Linked DNA regions of Homo sapiens: region 2 is linked to region 1. Evidence: fine-mapped expression QTL. A gene starts in region 1. The other region holds a variant in brackets. All regions are shown on one strand. Distances are between the middles of the regions. Region 1 holds the start of ASPA (aspartoacylase). Region 2 overlaps TRPV3 (transient receptor potential cation channel subfamily V member 3).

The links.
Region 2: its variant is fine-mapped to the expression of ASPA in adrenal gland (GTEx, PIP above 0.99).

The regions. Positions count from the first base shown.
Region 1 is chr17:3,473,864-3,479,244 of GRCh38, forward strand. It overlaps ASPA (aspartoacylase), which reads left to right and starts at 2,134. Exons shown (of 6, transcript NM_000049.4): 1 at 2,134-2,532. The coding sequence starts at 2,297. It also overlaps a transcript of SPATA22 not described here.
Region 2 is chr17:3,510,868-3,516,248 of GRCh38, forward strand. It overlaps TRPV3 (transient receptor potential cation channel subfamily V member 3), which reads right to left. Exons shown (of 18, transcript NM_145068.4): 17 at 3,726-3,805; 18 at 1-3,144. The coding sequence ends at 3,050. It also overlaps a transcript of SPATA22 not described here. Among named protein-coding and RNA genes, the nearest start is that of ASPA, 38 kb to the left of the region's middle. The variant A/C (reference allele first, on the strand shown) is at 2,148.

The DNA of each region.
Region 1 (5,381 bases):
TGCTGGAAGTTATGCTTACTCTTTTAAGTACTTCAGAATATTATATATTCAACTTAATAATGAGATAGTGACAATTCGAAAGGGTTTCACTTCGTATACTATCAGTTCGCTGAGAACTAATAAAAAAGTGTGGTTTTTTGGGTCATCCCAAAAATCAAGTACACTTTGGGAAACAGGGAGTTAAAAATCTTTCGGAAGTTAACTTGGTATAAGAGTATGAAAAGCCTCTGTTGCTCTACTTCTGAGGAAATGCTCTCCTTTTTCCTAATAAAGCTTTCCACAGAAGACAAACTCTGTACACAAAAAACAAGGTAAGTATGGGAAATAATTGCTGCAATTCATTAACTCTCAAAAAAGTTATTCATTTTGACATGTAAGAGAAACTTTATTTATGAATGTGAAATGTGCTTCAAAGTGCTGATCTGTTAAAATTCCATAAAACAAGCTTCAAAATGCAAGTCATTTGTGCCAGCTACGAGTAAATAACTGAAGCAGCATTTCCAGAGAGACTAGGGCAAAGGACAGAACAAACTACAAATCAGCAGAAAAGAAACCAAGCATAGTAGAGTGTTAATAATTCACCATGGTTACTGCTCTTAAAACCAAAGCAACTAAACAACTGTCATCTGTTTACTTTTACGTGTGTTTTCATCATCTCTACACCGTCTGAAGTGTTCAGTGTACATGGATGTGGACAGACAGTCAAAGCCTACAGGAGCTTTTTTTTTCTATTAGAACAGTCATTTTAATGCATAGATTTGATGTGGTTATTTTGCTTTCTCTATCTCTGCATTATAAGCTCTTAAAGGAAGAACATTCAGTGGGTTTATTAAATATTAGGAAGCATTCATATTTTATTTTTCCACCATGTATTTGGTTTGTATGCATGTTTGTTTCCTGAGCACACTGTAATGGCTGTTTATGTGAATTCTGAAAGAGCAAAACTAGAACTGTGAAGAAGACCAAAAATAACAGAGAGGCACCCTATTGTCCTGTGAAAAACACTAGACTTGGGATGAGAAACATGGGTCTCAGGCCTAGGTTCTCCTACATCCCTGCAGAACCTTAACTGAGTTACTTAACCTCTCTTTCGTTTACCCCTGCAGTGGGGATGTCAACACCTAACCCACCCTATCGTATAAAATTAATGTATGAATAAACTGAGTGAAAGGACATTATAAATTAAACTCTGCAATTGTAATAAATTACTCTTATTGTACCCTCTATCAAACAACCTGGCGTTACTAGTACATGGTATTCCCAGTACTTGAACATATGTGACTTTCTGGGTGACTGAGCATGAAATCAAATCAGATTTGGCTCAGAGTCATTTCTCCAAAGGGATGTAATCATCTTAGTATTCTGGAAAATTTCCCCTAATAAGACCCCTTTTTGAGTAACACAGTCCAGTGGAGAGTCCCCGCTGACAGTGAATAAGGCTGTGTCTATGTAAGTTCACATGATGTGGTTAGCACATGCAGTGTGTCCCAAGACATTTTCAGGCATCACAAAAACTTGAAAAGTACTAACAGTTGTCTTTCCTTTGGTATTTAGGCAAAAAATGAGGAAGATTCATAAGTAAGTTAACACAGAATTACCAAAAACCTCATGAGAAAGAAATGAAGGGATGTTTCAGGGTAGCTTTTCGAGTCCCAAGTGATCATTGATTTGGCCCTTCTGTTTCTGATTGTGAAAAAGCATTCTGAAAGAATGGGCGCCGGTTCAAGAGGAGGTCTCTGAGGGTCAGCCTTTGGCTGTTTATAGAGGTGAGATTCAAATGCCCTCAGATCATGAAAAGTGCTTGAACTCATTTCAGAGAAGAAATGTTTTGAAATGCCCGTGGAAATACTGAGTGGGCCACTTTTTTATTTTGTGAAATTAGAAACGTATAAACTATTTTTATTATTACAGATAATTGTGAAAGCCTCACTGGATGACATCCTAGCTGAGGAAAAGAATGGAATTTTTGTATTAGTATGAAATGCTAATTTATTACTGTATTTAGATCTACTGACCATCTGAGGGAGTTAGAAGTTAAAGTAAACAGCTGTATCTCTAGTTGATCTTTGCATATTTTAATCCAAATATGGCAAAGGGCAGGGCTAAAGAAGGGAGTGTCCATAAACGGGGCTCAGAACTTGTAACAGAAAATTAAAATATACTCCACTCAAGGGAATTCTGTACTTTGCCCTTTGGGTAAAGTCTCATTTACATTTCTAAACCTTTCTTAAGAAAATCGAATTTCCTTTGATCTCTCTTCTGAATTGCAGAAATCAGATAAAAACTACTTGGTGAAATGACTTCTTGTCACATTGCTGAAGAACATATACAAAAGGTTGCTATCTTTGGAGGAACCCATGGGAATGAGCTAACCGGAGTATTTCTGGTTAAGCATTGGCTAGAGAATGGCGCTGAGATTCAGAGAACAGGGCTGGAGGTAAAACCATTTATTACTAACCCCAGAGCAGTGAAGAAGTGTACCAGATATATTGACTGTGACCTGAATCGCATTTTTGACCTTGAAAATCTTGGGTAAGACTATGCTTTGTATTGTATATGTATGTATGTTGTGTGAAAAGTGGTAGGTGTGTGAAAGAGAACACATATATGTATATGCAGATGATAATTCATGTCCGTACATGCAGTCGTATGTTGAATAAGATCACTTTCACTTTTAATTATACTGCATTGTGAATTGCACAATTATCTAAACTGGGCATTCACATGCTCTTTTATAAACCTTCTTAAGCACCAGATTATTAAGTTTTCTTTTCAAATGTATACAGACTGAGACAATAAATAGAAAAGGGTTTTGTTTTAAAATCATACCTTTAAAGAAACAGATTTAATACTCCTTTGCATTGAGTTAGTGTTTGGCCACTATGCTTGCATATAAAATTGTTAGCTTTTTAGGAAATTCACTACGTTTTCAAGCAACTATGCTTACGGTAATGCATAAAGTTCTAGTTCAAAAAATGTAATGTTTCAAGTAATATTTGTTGAATGAAAGCGTGATTAAATATCTTTTGTCAGAAGACATCAGACACTTTGGGAGGCCGAGGCAGGCGGATCACGAGGTCAGGAGATCGAGACCATCCTGGCTAATGCAGTGAAACCCCATCTCTACTAAAAATACAAAAAATTAGCCGGGCGTAGTGGCGGGTGCCTGTAGTCCCAGCTACTTGGGAGGCTGAGGCAGGAGAATGGCGTGAACCCGGGAGGCGGAGCTTGCAGTGAGCCAAGATTGTGCCACTGCACTCCAGCCTGGGAGACAGAGCAAGACTCCGTCTCAAAAAAATAAATAAATAAATAAAAATAAAGACATCAGACCTCCCTGTGATCCGAAGTAGCAGACGTACTTAACTTCCATGGTGGATTGTTGTAGATGGGATACCAGAGATGAGAACTAAAGACACCATCTGAATTTTCAGAGCTTATATTTTGCTGATTTGTAATATATTGCATACAACGTAAGCAGTCATAACATGCTAGGTTAGGTCCTTATTAATTATTTTTGCCTTCGTTTACATCATAATAGCTACCACTGTGGATATAATATGACTCCACATATTTGCTTTTTACCACTTCTTTCTTTCTTTCTCTTTTTGAGATGGAGTTTCGCTCTTGTTGCCCAGTCTGGAGTGCAATGGTGCAATCTCAGCTCACTGCAGCCTCCACCTCCGGGTTAAAGTGATTCTCCTGCCTCAACCTCCCGAGTAGCTGGGATTACAGGCACTTGCCACCATGTCCGGGTAATTTTTTGTATTTTTAGTAGAGACGGGGTTTCTCCATGTTGGCCAGGCTGGTCTCAAACTCCTGGCCTCAGGTGATCTGCCTGCCTCAGCCTCCCAAAGTGCTGGGATTATAGGCATGAGCCACCGCGCTGGGCCGCTTTTTTTCTTTTACTAAAAAATATTCTGAAACATCTGTTTTTCTCAGGAAACTGTGCCAGGTACTGGGGGAGTACACAGCTCTATACAACTTGGTTTCTACCCCTCAAGGAGTTGGTAGACTACTAGCTAAGATATAAGATACATGGCCGGGCACAGTGGCTCACACCTGTAATCCCAACACTTTGGGAGGCTGAGGCAGGCAGATCATGAGGTCAGGAGATCAAGACCATCCTGGCTAACACGGTAAAACCCCGTCTCTACTAAAAAAAATACAAAAAATTAGCCGGGCATGGTGGCGGGCACCTGTAGTCCCAGCTATTCGGGAGACTGAGGCAGGAGAATGGCGTGAACCTGGGAGGCGGAGCTTGCAGTGAGCAGAGATGGTGCCACTGCACTCCAGCCTGGGTGACAGAGCGAGACTCCGTCTCAAAAAAAAAAATATATATATATATAAGATATGCACAGGCACAACTAGCCACTGTTCTATGTGCTTGTTTTCTGATCAACTCTAATTTGAGTTAGATCACTCCTTAGGTTTAGTCTCAACACAGATCAAAACATGGACACTACTCTTAATAGAAACATGCCTCACTTTATGGAATAGATGTTTTTCAGGGCAATTATACTGCAGTCATCCTGTTTGTATCAAATCATATTTTTACTAGCATAAATTTTAATTTGAGAAATGCTTTATCTTCATGACTGAGGTTATGTCAACACAATTCATGCTTATCTATTGACCTAAGAGAGCTGTTAACTAACTTCTATATTACAAGTAAGAATTTGTTGAAGGATAACTTTTAGTCGGCATATTAACTTCCCAAATAGGTGTGAAATGGACTGGGGTGAGTTTATGAGCACCCAGTAGTATGCATTTCAGTGAGCACAGTCTTTTCACTTAAATTCACTTTCTGCTCCTTACTGTTAACACTGTTCAGAGACTAGACTGTTCCCAGCGTGGTTGAAAAATTATAAAATAGATAAACTAATTAACTTCTCCCATCCTGCCTCTCCCAAATTTATTCATTTTCCTATATTCCTCATCTCAGTGGTGGCATCATTATCCACCAAGTCCCCTGTGAAAATCACCCTAGAACCTTCCCAGTCCTTTGTCTCCCACGTCTAGTGGGTCACTAAGTCCTCCCAATTATTCCTTGCAAGTACTTCACAAATCCAGCCTTCCTCTCCAGTTTTACTACCTTAGTTGATTTCCTCTGTGGACAGTTAGAATAGCCTCCTAAAGGGTCTCTCTGCATCCAGACTTGCTCTGACCCTTCCTGTCATCTATTTTCCATCTGATACCTCTAGGAATCATCCTAATATGCAAATCTTATCATGTCTCTCCCCTGCTGAAAATTCTTTAAAAATGTATCCAGAATAGATTTAATCAACTTAGTATGGCTAATGCCCTTCAGAATCTCACTCTTCCCTATTCTTCATCCCTTGGGACTCTTCCAATGGGAGCTCAACTGCAGGCATGAGAACTCA
Region 2 (5,381 bases), 37 kb after region 1:
GAGCCTTCTAAGAGCCTGAAGACTTCACAGTACAACCTCCAGCACCTTCTCCCACATCCCAGGGAGGAAGGTTAAGCACCTTTTATTCCTAACAGATATATCACATAATGTCTAGAATAATGAATTCTTCCTGAGGAAAAGTTTAGCTAAAGGAGCATTTGCAGCCAAAGGCACTATCTGAACCTGGGAGACCCCATCCCTGGAAAACACCTTCCCCTGAAATTACTGAAATGTCAATCACGGAGTTTTAGGATGTCCTGATAGACCCACGGGTTCAACGGGGTGTGTGTGGGGGCTGAGGGTGTGTGTGTGCATGGGTGTGGTTTTGTGCACCCCTGTGGGCACACTTGAATTTTCAACTAGTCATAGGGAACATAGGGGACAATGTTGACTGCCAAATGAGACACCTGAGAAAATAGTCCTGCCCCCCAATATAAGCGAAATACAAAGACTCAAAATGATGGAATAACTGTGCTTTTTAAAAATAAATAAATAATGGCTCAGGGAGACATCTGTGGTCCAAGAATCAGGACACTCCAGCCTCCACAGCTCTGATATGACCTTCCTGCATGACTTTGCCCAAGTACACATTCCTCTCGGAGCATTAGCCTCTGGGCGTAAAATGAAGGAAGTGCTCCTTTTCACTCTGATGCTTCTTGACTTATGGCTTCCCTTGGTAAACCTACCTAGGCTCAGACGTTTTGGCTGAAAGCCTTTTGGGGTGGACACTGTTGGGAAGAATATCCAATACAGAAAATGGTCTTGCCAACAAATTCCATCCAGACCCACAGACAGCAGATCACCAAAACATGTGAGATGACAAACATCCCTATGGCTCTCCATTCCCCACTTGGACAAAAGCTGGCAGGTTAGGCAAATAGAAATCAATAATTGGCTTTATCCATTAACATCCGAGTCAAAGCAACTCTGGATACGGCTTTATCCATAACAGATACGGCTTTATCCATTAATGGATATGACTTTCTCCATTAATATCTGAGTCAAAGCAATTCTGGAATTCCCAGCTCCATAGTGTGGAGCTTGGCATCATGAATCCAAACCACTTCCTTTCAGACCAAGATGTCTGTTCAGGCTTAATGCGGGTAGCTAACTCCAGATGTGGAATGCTGATTTGTACAATCTCCAGGCTAAAAGGGACCTTAAACTTCTTCCAATGACCATTTTCAACAACATTCCTCATTAAGTGCGCAACCAGCTTCTGCTTAAACATCTCCAACATCTGGAGCAGTTGCTGGATTCTGTTGAGCCAAAATCTTTCTCAATTTCCTAATTCTGCCCATTCTGAAACACATCTGCTCCTCCTGCCTCTAGGACAGTTCTCCTCAAATCTTCTCTTCTCCAGAGGCCCATGCCCAGCCCCGACCACTGTGGCTTAGAGCACGCGATTACTCCCTGGGTCAGCTGGGAGGGCAGGGGCTGCTGTGGATTGTGAAGCCTCACACACCCCAGCCCACCTCTCCCCAATCGGCCCCATCAGGGGCACAAAGTCTCTATCTGTCCAGCTAGTCTGGCACACAGAGTGGCCCAGGGCAGAGAAACTGGCCCAGAGTGCACTGCTAGGCCCCGACTCTTCAGTTTGCCTCAAGCCAGATGAACTTATCTATCGCCATGTTATCTGAAGGCCAAATTTCTATTTCTGCCATTTAAGATTAACATTTATGGTTACTATTTTTATAATTCCACCTCGAACATTTTTACATGAATCCTTTCACCAGATAACGGCGGCAGAGTGGATTTTCTGGTGGTTTCGGCCCCAGTCACCTGGAAAATCCTTCCGTCTCCACTTCACCTCTGCCCCCCAGACTGACTCCGTGTCATTTCAGAAAGAGAACATCAGAGGACGAGGACCTAAAAATAAGCTCAAAGTCTTGGCAAATGCTTTTCTCTCACAAGCTTCCCCTTCAGCTTCAAAATTCACAGTTAAAATTAAAAAAAAAATACTTCGTACCAAAGCAGTTGAGGCATTTTGTTAAATTCCCCCACTGAGACATACTGAGGTATGCGACTAACTGCTGAGTTCCAAGATGATATCGATCGAGCAGCTGCTATTTCTGCTTCAGCGAAAGCCACGATCCCAGCACACAGGCACGCGCTACTGTGAGGTCAGGACGAGGAAAAGAGCCAGG[A/C]CCTTTCACCCAGATCGCGGCGGCCCAGCAGGACTTGCCCGGAGTGTCTCATGCAGACTTTTGTGTGTGTGAAGAAAAGCTTTTTGTCTTGCTCTGGGCACCCTGAGGCCAAATATATAATACTTACATCCAGCCCCAAAGCCCCCAGTCTGTCTCCACTTTTAAAATCACAAACTTCATTGTAGTAATTTTCATTCTCAACTGAAATGTCTTTTCCGTATTGCAAGTTAAAACCCTGTGTTAATTCTGCTACTAAAAACATCTCTCAGCTTGAGACAGTTTGAACCTTGGGGTGTCAGGGGACGTTCACTCCAAGGATGGTCTCCTTTTCCCCGAAGGGTTCCGGAAGGGTGTTTCCAGAGCGCATTCCCCTCCTCCCCCAGGATATCCAGCTTACCTCCGTCCCCCGCACACTCTGGGATGGGATCACGGGTCTCCCACAAATTCAGGCAACCCAGTCACAGCAGAAGAGATGGTACAATGTGTGGGCTGGGGTTGGGGCTGACGGGGGAAGCTGGCAGGAGGAAAGACTCCTCTCCCTGCTCCTCAAGACTGCTGCCCCTTTCCCGCCATCCATCTCTCCCAGCCAAGCCGACCTGCAATTGGTAAAACCAGAGGCTTCACCCGGGACTTCAGGAGGCTCCCAGGCTCCAGACTGCTGCTGGCTGTAGGTTTACACCAGCTGTTTGCCAAGTAACAAAATCCAGGATGTTTCCCACTCAGACAAATTGACAACTGCCCCTCAGTTCAGACACCCACTGAGCACTGAGCACGAGGGTGCACTCTGCTTCTAGGCCAGCAGAGCCGGACTCCACCATCCCTCAAAGCCTCTCTGCACAGAGTCGGTGACTCCGCCTGCAGCGCCAGACAGCGCACGCGCACACCAGCTCTGGGTTCCGCTTCTACACCGAGGTTTCCGGGAATTCCTCGACTTCTTCAAATGCATTGAGAGTGGTTTTGCTGTTGTTCCTGGAAGAATCTTGGATTTTGTTGAAATCTGCTTTTTAAAAAAATATATATTTTAGAAATATATCACTCTGCATAGTGTGTTTCTTTTTTCTTTTTCTTTTTTTTCTTTTTTGAGATGGAGTTTCCCTCTTGTCACCCAGGCTGCAGTGCAGTGGTGTGATCTCAGCTCACTGCAACCTCCACCTCCCAGGTTCAAGCAATTCTCCTGACTCAGCCTCTCGAGTAGCTGGGATTATAGGCACCTGCCACCACGTTCGGCTAATTTTTGTATCTTTAGTAGAGACAAGGTGTCACCATGTTGGCCAGGCTGGTCTCAAACTCCTGACCTCAGGTGATTCACCCGACTCGTCCTCCCAAAGTGCTGGGATTACAGGCACGAGCCACCGCGCCCGGCCTGCATGATGTGTTTCTATGGCTTAGGGCTACGCCATTTTAAAAGTTGTGCCAACTAGGGTTCTAAAAGTCAGAGCTGGAAGAGACCTAAGAAGCATTTCCATTCAACCCTCCCATTTGACAGATGGGGAAAGTCAGGACCCTTAGACTTGATCTGCCCAAGGTTACATGGTCTGAGACAGGAGCGGACACCATGTCACCTCACAGCGACAGTACCTGTTCGTCTTACAGGCCCCGGGTCTTCGTTAAGGAAGGAGACGTGCGTCTTCCATTCAGTCCACTTCACCTCATTGATCCTGCAAATGTGATAATCATTCTTACTATTTCACCAGTGCCTCACTGAGTACTAACAAATAGCCCTGCGTTTGGGACGTCCTGGTGTCTACACAGCTCCCCTTCTGTCTGTCCTAGAGATCAGGAGCACCCCTGACCCGAGGGGTCACACCAAAGTTGTTGGAGTTTGAACTCTATCCCCATCTCCACGTCCCCAGGCCTCAGAGAATCAGTTCTCCTTCCATTGTAGGGAACTCGGAAATCCTGCAAGTTGCCCAGACAGGTGTAAAGGGTCCAACTTCAGACAACAGCTGCTGTGCCTGACTGGTGACAGCCCAAGGGGAAGCGGGGACAGACAGAGGGAGGGCCCGGGCCACGAGGGTGTGAAGATTAAACTCCAAGTGTAGCAGGGGTTGAGGAAGCACGAAGAGCCTGTGGTTAGGGTCAGTGCCCCAACAAGAGTGGGTGGCGTCTGAGGTGTTAGAATACAACCATAGGCATTGATGTGACTTCAATTCACACCCAGAGAACATCTCTAGAGTGAGGGTGGCAACATCACAACTGTTTGTTAGGGTAATGATTGCAGTCAGAAATGATGCTTTCCACGGGGCGCGGTTTCAGTCAGAGAAGTGGGTTAAGGTATGGTCATACTCCGAGAAGGTGGTCTGTAGGCTCAGGCAGTTGGGTCAGGGTAGGAGGAGGTGGGCTTATCAGAAAAGGTGTTCATGGGGCCGGGCACCGTGGCTCACGCCTGTAATCCCAGCACTTTGGGAGGCCGAGGGGGGTGGATCACTTGAGGCCAGGAATTCAAGACCAGCCTGGCCAACGTGATGAAACCTCGTCTCTAATAAAAATACAAAAATTATCCAGGCGTGGTGGCATATGCCTGCAGTCCCAGCTACCGGGGAGGCTGAGGCAGGAGAATCGCTTCAACCAGGGAGGCGGAGGTTGCAGTGAGCAGAGATCGCATCACTGCACTCCAGCCTGGAACTCCTTTTAAAAAAACAGAAAAGAAAAGGTGGTCATAGGATATGTAAGGACTTTAAAAAAAAAATGCAAAAAGCCAGAGATCTGTCAAAGTAGCCACGTCACTTTCCATCTGCCAGGGGCAAAAGGGGCCTCAAGTCACCCGGGGTCACAGGAACTCACACAGGGTAAACAGCAGGAAAAGGAGTACCCAGCAGGCAGATCTTCCCTAAACCAGATAGCGAACACAGAGAGACCATGGAGGCACCTCCAAAAAAGCAGAGAGAGGGGCTGGGTGCGGTGGCTCATGCCTGTAATCCCAGCACTTTGGGAGGCCAAGGTGGGTGGATCACCTGAGGTCAGGAGTTTGAGACCAGCTTGACCAACATGGTGAAACTCTGCCTCTACTAAAAATACAAAATTAGCCAGGGGTGGTGGCGCATGCCTGTAGTCCCAGCTACTCGGGAGGCTGAGGCAGGAGAATCACTTGAACCCGGGAGGCGGAGGTTGCAATGAGCCAAGATTGCGCCATTGCACTCCAGCCCGGGCAACAAGAGCAAAATTCCGTCTCAAAAAAAAATAAAAGAAGAAAGAAAAATGCAGAGAGGGGAGCCGCTGTTGGCAGTCTCCTTC